3 linked regions of the Homo sapiens genome follow. The protein of the gene in region 1 interacts with the protein of each later gene in a biochemical or structural test. Each region holds a gene or a part of one and is shown on either strand. Other genes may lie near its edges. The genes, in order: EWSR1, SMARCC2 and DHX9.

What was found.
Region 2: the proteins of EWSR1 (region 1) and SMARCC2 form a complex in vitro, tested with the Homo sapiens proteins (one large-scale study listed by BioGRID).
Region 3: the proteins of EWSR1 (region 1) and DHX9 form a complex in vitro, tested with the Homo sapiens proteins (one study listed by BioGRID).

Annotation. Positions count from the first base shown.
Region 1 is NC_000022.11:29,288,632-29,292,284, forward strand, and holds part of EWSR1 (RNA-binding protein EWS), read left to right. Parts: coding exon 1-155; coding exon of another isoform or gene 156-159; intron 160-1,781; coding exon of another isoform or gene 1,782-1,872; exon of another isoform or gene 1,873-2,053; intron 2,054-2,930; coding exon 2,931-2,968; intron 2,969-3,505; coding exon 3,506-3,538; intron 3,539-3,653. UniProt on the Homo sapiens protein: Binds to ssRNA containing the consensus sequence 5'-AGGUAA-3'. Might normally function as a transcriptional repressor. EWS-fusion-proteins (EFPS) may play a role in the tumorigenic process.
Region 2 is NC_000012.12:56,179,373-56,183,025, reverse strand, and holds part of SMARCC2 (SWI/SNF complex subunit SMARCC2), read left to right. Parts: intron 1-946; coding exon 947-1,022; intron 1,023-1,190; coding exon 1,191-1,322; intron 1,323-1,428; coding exon 1,429-1,544; intron 1,545-1,924; coding exon 1,925-2,049; intron 2,050-3,653. UniProt on the Homo sapiens protein: Involved in transcriptional activation and repression of select genes by chromatin remodeling (alteration of DNA-nucleosome topology).
Region 3 is NC_000001.11:182,845,732-182,849,384, forward strand, and holds part of DHX9 (ATP-dependent RNA helicase A), read left to right. Parts: intron 1-3,653. UniProt on the Homo sapiens protein: Multifunctional ATP-dependent nucleic acid helicase that unwinds DNA and RNA in a 3' to 5' direction and that plays important roles in many processes, such as DNA replication, transcriptional activation, post-transcriptional RNA regulation, mRNA translation and RNA-mediated gene silencing.

The sequences.
Region 1 (3,653 bases):
AGCATGGGTGTTTATGGGCAGGAGTCTGGAGGATTTTCCGGACCAGGAGAGAACCGGAGCATGAGTGGCCCTGATAACCGGGGCAGGGGAAGAGGGGGATTTGATCGTGGAGGCATGAGCAGAGGTGGGCGGGGAGGAGGACGCGGTGGAATGGGGTAAGAGCAAACCTTTTCTCCTTTTACCTAATTTTGTTTCATCCATAGGATTTTCAGTGGAAAGAAGGGACTGAAAGACATAAGAAATTAATTTCTGCATTTCCATGGACAATCTGTTGAGCTCAAGCCATCTTCTAAAACATGGAAATGTCATCTTTGTGGCATATATTAAGTGGCAGTTTATTTTCTTTCCCTGCCAGTATACTTCGTTGGGTCGGGGAGAACAAAGAATGGTTTTGAAACCAGAGCTTTCAGTTCCCTTCATGGTTTCCAGAGGTGAGAAGCCTCTGTGGGTAGTAGATTTGGGATGGAACACACACAACCCTTCTAATGACCCTAAGTTGTTAACTAACTGCCTTTGAATGGTTGTCTTGAAATACCTGGTGTATATACTGCAGAAAAGGAATGCAGCTGTTTTCCACAGTGTTTGTCCCCAACTTCTGTTTGTACTCAGAATCGTTGAACATATGAAGATTTTGGTCCCATAATCCTTAAACTATAGCCTGAGGTGCACCTGATTACATAGAGTTTGGATGGAGCAAAGAAAAATCCAATAGCATTTTGCAGAGTAATGTATATAATTATGGGCTCACTTCCTACTGGAGATGTTGAAAGTCTAAATCGGTTTGACCATTTTGATTGATGGCACAATCTGGTTTAGAAAACTTTGTTTAGATCAATGACATAACCCTGCTGCCTCTGCCTGCCCTTCCCCTCCCTTCTCCCATCCCCTTTTCCCTATCTGGTGTCTGTACTTTGATGAAGGTGAGCTATAATATTGGTGGTTAACATAATCCAGAAGGCTTAGTTCTGTGTGTGTTCTGTCCCTATATAAACTGGTAAAGAAAAAAAAAAGTTATGCAGAATGTTAGATATTTACATTTGATACGGTGTGCCACTATTCAAGGAAAAATTAAATAGCATTTTTTAAAAAACAGAATGAACTTCAAAATTAAAGTTGATTTTTAACTTCCATATTAGCAAATACTCTTCACTACTGAAAGACAGTACTATTTTGCATATTCTGCATAACTTTAAGAAAGTCTTTAGTGAAATCTTTATTGGAAGAAAGTCATTTGACAACAGGCAAAAATTTAATGATTCGGTATGAAGTAAAATCAATCTTCTGATTTGGAAAATACTCTATTATAAAGGTTTCACTTCTTTTTGGATGTTTTAAAATAGACATAGACACTTGAAAGTACTATCATCACGTCTCAAATCACCTAGAATTCCTAGTATTTTTAAATTGCAAATACAATTTCAAGTTTATTTAAATACTCCAGAAGTTATAATCCTACTAATTGTGCTAGACTTTGCTAGTAGAGGGGGCCCCTCTTTCTGGATGAGAAGTCTCTCTTGCAGCCATAGAAGAGACCATGGCTTTCCCCATAGGTTTTTCAACAGACTGTGAAGCAGTCTGTCGGATCCTGTGGGGATAGACGGGCATTTCCCTCGTTGCCCCCCTTTTTATTGTGGTGTGGTGATGGTTTTCAGTGTCTTGTACAGGTAAGGCACTCAATGTTGTTAACATGCCCTTTTTCATTGCCTCAGTATTTTGATATTTTCATTGGCTGTTAAACGTGGAAACTTTTTAACATGCTTTGTCGCATTTATATGCTACAGGTTACAAAGTGAGAGCCTTGTATACACTTCAATACTTAAAAAGTACCCGTACTCAGTACTCAGCCGGCAGCATAATGAAAAGTGGGACTAGACACGGTGTCCATATGGAGAGGAAAAATATACATAGAATATTTTTAACAAAATGTATTCATTGTATAAATGGAATCCTTCTGTAACTTTGGTAACTGCATACTTGTTGTTTGGTAATGAACCAGAGGAGGTATAATACTCTAGAATTGTGTAACATTAAAGTGTAAACTTTTGTGTTTAAAGAGAGAGAACATTTTATGGTGTGTACTTTTAAAAAGGAAACAAAGCTGCATGCAACAGCTTGAAATTGTATATTCAGGTATTAAAGGTGCAATACTGGTTAGAAAAAACTCAGGGCCTCCCACTGGGGAGCTGCCTTTATTTAATTTTAAAGAAAACAAAATCTAACCCAAAAAGTCCAATTCATATTTCCCTCTCCCCTCTTTAAGTAATTTTACATGGCCATAGTCATTATTCTAACTGATATGTCTATAAAGTTGCACCCCCAGTCCGTTGAGCCTTGGTATTTGTTGTAAATTCTCCTTTCACAGCGATTGTTAAATCTATTCGTGCCCTGAGATGTATGGCTTTATGCTGAAGATTGGCTGGATGCGTCCTCTGATGTGTGTTGTAGGAATTTAATGTGGTTGTCTCCTGCTTTTATTATACTGTGACTTGTTAGGAAACCCTGGGCCTCATTTGGCTCTCCCTTGGGAGAGGTTGAGGGTGCACCTTTATGAACATGGAAAGGTTTATCACAGCAGTTAACCCCCACTTGCTCCTCCCCTCTATACCAAGCTCTTCTGGTTTTTCACCTGACGGGGTGGGTGTTTGGGATCTATTTTTTCTTGCTAATTTGCCAAGTATTGCACTATTAATACCAGCCCCCGAAATGAAAGGAACCAACCACACTGGTGTGTACAATCAGACAAGCAAGGTTGTATATTGAGGAAATTTGAGCAAGCTGCCCTGAAGAAAGGCATAGTGACAAGATGAGAGAGATGCATTGTTTGGAGATGTGTTTAGCCAGTGCCCTTCTTCCCCACGAGCCCCCCCAAGGCTCAGAGCGGTACTGGCTTTTAAAGGGAAAGGCCTTCATTTCTTCGTTTATCCCCCCAGCAGCGCTGGAGAGCGAGGTGGCTTCAATAAGCCTGGTGGTAAGTTTTTGAGTATTACCATAGATAGTGTTTAAAAAAAAATGCAGTCAGTTTTTAGAAAACTATAATTTTTTTATTAGTTTCATAAGTGGTTTAAAAATGATCTATACAAAAGAGACTAATGGGTACTGCCGGCATTGTCTTAGGGGTTAATAAGGTTAACCTATGGTTACAAAACAAAGGGTAACTTGAAGTATTGAGTAACTGCTTCTGTAATATGGGGGAGAATAAATTTTTAAATTTGGTTTATTTAGAGGAAAAATTTTGACTTAAATTTAACACTGATTTGGCACATAAGCATTGAGAGTGTATTTGGTTAATGGTTTAGAAGCAAACCAGCAAAGGAAAAAAGCAAACCCTAGCAAACCTTTCACAAATGTTAAAGAGACACTGCTCCATTTTAGCAGTGCGGGTCATTTTGAGTTTAATGAATCCCCATCAAATGGTGGTATAGTAGATAGCTATGTGTGTTTGTAAGGTTTGTAGCTTGCAAGACGTGCACTAATAATATTTTATATGATCTTTCCTGGTTGGCAGGACCCATGGATGAAGGACCAGATCTTGATCTAGGTAATTTTGAATTCTAGTTGTGCTTCATATCGTGCTTTGTAAATTAATGGTACAGAGGTAAATGCATGCGTAGAGTTCAGCAGCCTTATAGACCAGTGTGATATTCTTGCTGTCA
Region 2 (3,653 bases), on another chromosome or scaffold:
TTTACAAAAAAAAAAAATACAGAAATTAGCTGGGCATGGTGGCATGCACCTGTAGTCCTAGCTACTTGGGGGGCTGAGGTGGGAGGATTGCTTGAGCCCAGGAGGTTGAGTCTGCATTGTGCCATGATTGCACCACTGCACTTCAACCTGGGCAATAGAGCAAGACCCTGTCTCAAAAAAAAAAAGCATGTAAAATATCATCTAGTATGGTTATGATTATGTAAAAACATCATCTAGTATGGTTATGATTATGTAAAAAGAAAATTGTGGACCAGGCACAGTAGCTCACTCCTATAATACTAGCACTTTGGGAAGCCAAGGCAGGAGGATCACTAAAGGCTGGAAGTTCAAGACCAGCCTAGGCAGCAAAGTGAGACCCTGTCTTAACAAAAACAAAAACCCCAGCTGGACGCGGTGTCTCATGCCTGTAATCCCAGCACTTTGAGAGGCCGAGGTGGGTGGATCACGAGGTCAGGAGCTTGAGACCAGCCTGGCCAAGATGGTGAAACCCCGTCTGTACTAAAAATATAAAAATTAGCCGGGCGCAGTGGCAGGCACCTGTAATCCCAGCTACTCGGGAGGCTGAGGCAGGAGAATCGCTTGAACCCGGGAGGCGGAGGTTGCAGTGAGCCGAGATCGCGCCACTGCACTCCAACCTGGGTGACAGAGCAAGAGCAAGACTCTGTATCAAAAAAAAAAAAAAATTACTGTGGAGGAAAAACAGATATACAAGTATCAAGAGTAGTTACGTAAGGGTGATTCTTTTTGTTCTCTATTTTTGAAATGTTTCGTAATGTGCTTTTACTACTTTATAATGAATAGAATACAAAAAAAATAAGCCAAGAACCCAATACTTTCTGTAAATGGAAAGGGTAAAAGATCTGCACTTTACTTTTCCACAATTCTATCCCATTGATTCTACTGTGTGCTCAATTTCCCATGGCAGTTACGACACGTGGATCCCAGCGAGTGAAATTGAGGCATCTGTGGAAGATGCTCCAACTCCTGAGAAACCTAGGAAGGTGAGCTTTTCTTGTATCCCCTCTTCCCCAAAAAGAATGCCAGGAACAGTCTACCCTTTGGAAGTGAAACAGAGGCTTGTATGCCCTTGAGCTTTTTCTGTTAAGGGTCCCCAGACAGAGCTGTGGCTTCCAGGCTTCTCTGCAGCATGATCTGCCTTTGTACTTTAGGTTCATGCAAAGTGGATCCTGGACACCGACACCTTCAATGAATGGATGAATGAGGAAGACTATGAAGTAAATGATGACAAAAACCCTGTCTCCCGCCGAAAGAAGATTTCAGCCAAGACACTGACAGATGAGGTGACAAATCCTGTTCTTTTTTTCCTGGCGCCCTTAGCATAAGTCTCAGAACAAATCTTCAGTGGGGATTGTAGGCTGACATTTGTCCTGATTCTCCATCCTATAGGTGAACAGCCCAGATTCAGATCGACGGGACAAGAAGGGGGGAAACTATAAGAAGAGGAAGCGCTCCCCCTCTCCTTCACCAACCCCAGAAGCAAAGAAGAAAAATGCTAAGAAAGGGTGTGCCAGCCCCTAGCCTGCCCCCGTGTTCACCATTCTCTCCACATCATGTTGAAGGAAGGAAAGACAAATCCCTTCCTATAACCACCTGGCCCTGACCTGGGTGTGCCATAATACTGCAGGTGTCCTGAGAGGGAAGATGAGGAGATCTTTAGCTGCTCAGTTGTTAGTTCTGGTTCTGGCCCCACTAGTACATTTAAAGAGAGCTTTATCAAGTGAAAAGCCTTTGCCACTTCCCATTACTGTGTGATTACTGGTTTCTGTTTGTACTCAGCTCTACCCTTGGAATTCTCTGTCACTTCCCTTCCCTTGAACTTCAACTTCCAGGGACTCCTTGTCCAAGGATGACTGGGTTCTCTTTCACTCTCTTTCCTTCCCAGTCCCTCAACACCTTACACTAAGTCAAAGCGTGGCCACAGAGAAGAGGAGCAAGAAGACCTGACAAAGGACATGGACGAGCCCTCACCAGTCCCCAATGTAGAAGAGGTGACACTTCCCAAAACAGGTACAGGCCAGGCTGAGCTCCTGGGATCCACCCCCACTCCCCGTCTTGACTCTCCTTTGCCAAACCCCAAGTGAGCTGATTTCTCAGGTCCACCTCCCAGTCTACAGGATCTTTTCCTTAAATTTAGCTGGTTATTGGAATTACGGTCATTACCCTGGAAAATCCTCTAACTGTATATTCATATCTGAGTTGTGGACTGTGCTTTGTGCCTGATAGTAGTTGTCTCCAAACTCTTTGATTATGTGTTTCTGACAGTAAAATATATTTGAGCATGGCCAGGCACGGTGGCTTATGACTGTAATCCCAGCATTTTGGGAGGCCGAGGCGGGCGGATCACCTGAGGTCAGGAATTCGAGACCAGCCTGGCCAACATGGTGAAACCCCATCTCTACTAAAAATACAAAAATTAGCTGGGCGTGGTGGTGGGCACCTGTAATCCCAGCTACTCGGGAGACCGAGGCAGGAGAATTGCTTGAACCTGGGAGGTAGAGGTTGCAGGGAGCCGAGATTGTACCACTGCACTCCAGCCTGGGCGACAAGAGCAAAACTCCATCTCAAAAAAAAAAAGGGCCGGGCACGGTGGCTCATGCCTGTAATCCCAGCACTTTGGCAGGCCGAGGTGGGCGGATCACGAGGTCAGGAGATCGAGACCATCCTGGCTAACATGGTGAAACCCTGTCTATACCAAAAATACAAAAAAATTAGCTGAGCGTGGTGGCGGGTGCCTGTAGTCCTAGCTACTCAGGAGGCTGAGGCAGGAGAATGGCGTGAACCTGGGAGGCGGAGCTTGCAGTGAGCTGAGATCACGCCACTGCACTCCAGCCTGGGCAACAGGGCGAGACTCCATCTCAAATAAAAAAAAAGAAAAAAAAATGTATATATGCATTAATTATGTACTTGTACTGTTAAGCCGCTACCATGGGAACGTTTTAAAACACAAACATATCTAAAAAATTGAAAAATGTAAAGAATGATAAAAACAAACATGAAGAATCAGGGCGCGGTGGCTTACGCCTGTAATCCCAGCACTTTGGGAGGCCGAGGCAGGCGGATCACGAGGTCAAGAGATCAAGACCATCCTGGCTAACACGGTGAAACCCCATCTTTACGAAAAATACAAAAATTTGCCAGGCGTGGTGGTGGGCGCCTGTAATCCTAGCTATTCGGGAGGCTGAGGCAGGAGAATCACTTGAATCTGGGAGGTGGAGGTTGCAGTGAGCCGAGATCGCACCACTGCACTCCAGCCTGGGCGACAGAGCGAGACTCCGTCTCAAAAAAACAAAACAAAAAACATGAAGAGAAGTTCTGTATTCTCTCCCTGAGTTGCAGTGGATCATCTTTTGCGTCCTATGTTAGAACCCCACTTTGGAGACATTGCTCCACCAATACTGGTTTACAGTCTGTATTCTGTAGACTCACCCCAGGTATTCCAGAAGTGTATTTCAGGGGTAGGATTAGGGCTGCCACCAAGAAGAGTTCTGGCTTCTACCTCCTCATCAATCAGCTCTCTCTCTTCTCTATGTTTGCTCCTGAGCATATGTATATGAATTCAGTTGAGGAAAGTATCCTCTGCTTTCAAAAATGTTTAACACTTAACCATTCTT
Region 3 (3,653 bases), on another chromosome or scaffold:
CTGCCTCTTTGGGGTCAGTTAATTTGCTAGTGTGGCTCACAGAACTCAGGAAAACCTACATTTACCAGTTTATTATAAAGAATACTACAAAATACAGTTGGTGAAATAAGTAGGGCAAGATATGGCGGAGGCAGCAGGGAGCTCCCATGCCCTGCCTCGAACACCATTCTTCAGGAACCTCCACCTGTTCGGCCATTTGGAAGCCCTCCAAACCCTGTCCTTTGGTTTTTATGGAAACTTCATTATTCAGTATTGATTAAATCGTTGGCCATTGGTGACTTGACCTTCAGCCCTTCTCACTTCCCCAGAGGCTGGGAGGTGGGACCGAAAGTTTCAGCCCTCTAATCTTTCCTTGGTGGTTCTGGTGACCATCCCCCCACACCTGAAGCTACCTAGGGCCTGCCAGCCAGCAGTCAACTCGTTAGCATACAGAAAGTCTCCACTTAGGAGATTATAAGGATTTAGGATTTCTATGCCAGGGAAATGGGATTGAAGACCAGATGTACTTTTTTTTTTTTTTTTTGAGATGGAGTTTCGCTTTTGTTGCCCAGGCTGGAGTGCAGTGGCATGATCTCGGCTCACCGCCACCTTTGCCTCCGGGTTCAAGCGATTCTCCTGCCTCAGGCAGGAGTATCTGGGATTACTGGCATGTGCCGCCATGCCCGGCTAATTTTGTATTTTTAGTAGAGACGGGGTTTCTCCATGTTGGTCAGGCTGGTCTCCAACTCCCAACCTCAGGTTATCTGCCCGCCTTGGCCTCCCAAAGTGCTGGGATTACAGGCGTGAGCCACTGAGTCCAGCCAGAGACCAGATAGGCTTTAAAGATAATATGACACTGTCTACTTGCTGTTTTCTGTAAGAAGTCAGCTATAATCAAATCACTCTCTCCCATATGTAATGTGGTAGTCTGTGTTTTTAAGATCTTTTCCTGTTATTTTTGGTTTTTAGTATTTTGTGTTGTGACCGGGCATGGGTTTTTTTGTATGTGTGTGTTCTAACTTGTTCAAGGTTTGCTGAGATTATTGAATCCATAGATTTATGTATTTCACCAACTTTGAGAGACTTAGCTATTATTTAAGATATTTTTTGTTTTATTTTTTCTTCTTTCCTCTTGGTGTTTATATTTATAAAGACTTGATATCCCACAGGTCCCTGAGGCTCTCTTTTTTTTTTCCTATCATTTTTTCCACTGTTTCTCAAATTGAATAATTTTTATTGATTATCTTCAGATTCTTTGATAGTTTTTTCTGTCCCTTCCATTTTGCTAAGCCCACCCAGTGTATTTCAGACACTACCTTTTTCACTTTTAAAATCTCCAGCTTATTCTTTTCTGTATGTTTTCTCTGGTGGCATTTCTTTTCATTCGTTATAAGTGTATGTTTGTAATATAAATATGGATTTCTTTTATGTCATGAAGCTTAATTCTAATAGCTGCTTTAAAATCCTTGCCTACTACTACTAACATCTGAGTCATCTCAGGGTTGGATTCTCTTGATAGGTATATTTTCTTGAGGTTGGATCACATTTTCCTCTTTGTGTATCAAATAATTTTTTATTGCATTCTGGGCATTGGAATATTATGCTGTGGAGACTCTGAATAATGTTATACTCCTCCAAAGAGCATTGATTTGGTTTTTTTGTTTTGTTTTGTTTTGTTTTTAATCAGGCATTTAATTTAACTGGACTCAAACTGCAAATGCTGTCTTTTGGATGTTAACTCAGATCTCACCTCAGTTTTCTGATCATTTAGGACAGCCATGGAAGAGTCCTTCAGGTCTCCTTTGCTGGGCAGCTTGGAATCTGCCCTGTACATGAGTGGTTTTCAAGGGTTAGCCAGAGATTTCAATATACAGAATTCGGGGCTCCTCCTCTCTGGCTGTTTCCTTTCCAGCATTCCCTCACTTTCTAGCAGCTTTGCTTTCCCTGAACTCTAATTCTGATTCTTCAGGCCAAAAAGATGGTTTCATTGGAGGTTTAGCTGCCTGGGATGGCTTCTCTCAGGCTAAAAGCTACAGTAAACTGGAATTAGACCCTTGATACTCCGTGCTTCCCCATTTTAACTTCTCTCAAGAATCTACCTGCTTTTTTCGTTCATTTTTTATTGCCTGCATATAGTTCTGGTGTGTTGTGTGTGTGTTTGTATTTTTTCCCCCTAAAGTTTATTTTACCTGCAGGAGGGTCAGTCTTACAGGAACTTACTTGGCTACAACCAGAAGTAATCCCCTAGGTGATTTTTTTATTATTGTTTTAACATGGCTCAGGTGTTTCCTATTAAATGCTCTGTGGATTTCCTACTTTCTTCCTTATTTCCTCTGTTCCAGCTACAGTAGCTGTACTTCTTCATAGGTCTTCAAATAAGCCCTCATCTTTCTGCCTCAAAACTTCTATACCTGAAGGACTCTTCCCCAGCTGTCCTATTTAACATTATAAACATTGTCACCCTCAGGTTACTTCCTAAACTCCTTCAATGCTTTATTTTTCTCCGTAACACTTACTTTTTAACTCAGTGTTTCTCAACTGGAGACCATTTTGTCCCCTCAAGGGATGTTTGGGGATGTATGGAGATATTTTTGTTGTTGTAACTCGAGGAGGCCACTGACATCTAGAAGGTGAAGGCCAGGGATGCTGCTAATGACCTACAATGCACTTGACAAACTCCTACAACAAAGAATTAACCAGCCTAAAATGTCACCAAGATGAGAAACCTTGTTCCAACGTAATTTATTTTTGTTTCATTGTATTAGAATGTAAGTTCGTGAGGGCAGGGATTTTTTTGTTTTTAGTTCGTTGCTGTGTCTCCAACATTTAGAATGGTTCCTGGTCTATAGCAGATACTTAAATGTTTTTTGGTTGACTGAGTAAATGAATGGATGAATTTGGAAAAAAAAATTATAACAACCCATTTCTACTTTTAACCCCACTGTATTATTAGTCCATTCTTGCATTGCTATAAAATACCTGAGACTGCATAATTTATAAAGAAAAGAGATTTAATTGGCTCACAATTATGCAGGCTTTACAGGAAGTGTGGTACTGGAATCTGCTTGACTTCTGAAGAGGCCTCAGTAAACTTAGAATGATGGCAGAAGGTGAAGGGGAAGCAGGGATGTCCTACATAGCAGGAGCAAGAGAAAGTAAAGGGGAAGATGCCACACACTTTTAAATGACCAGATCTCATGAGAACTCACTCACTGTTGCTAGGATAGCAGTACCAAGGAAAGTGGTACTAAACCATGCATGAGAAACCCACCTCATGATCCAGTTACTTCTCACCAGGCCCTACCTCCAACATTGAGGATTAAAATTTGACATGACATTTGGGCAGCGATACGTAACCAAACTGTTACCAGCTACCATCTTTATCTTACCTCCTCATTCTAGGGAAATCCTTTTTCATAATCACTTATTTCATCTGGAACTTACCCTTTCATGCCATAAATTGCATTTGCCAAAAGTGAGCATGTAGAGGATATTTTAAAATTTTTTTTGCTGTGGACAATTGTAGATGTGTATAAAAGAATAATATAGTGAAACTCCATGTTTCCGTCATCTGGCTGCAACACTTTCAATTTTACTCATTTCTAACTACTCCCCTTTCTTAGATTATTTTGGAGCATCCCAGACATCTTATTCATCTGTTAATATTTCAGTTT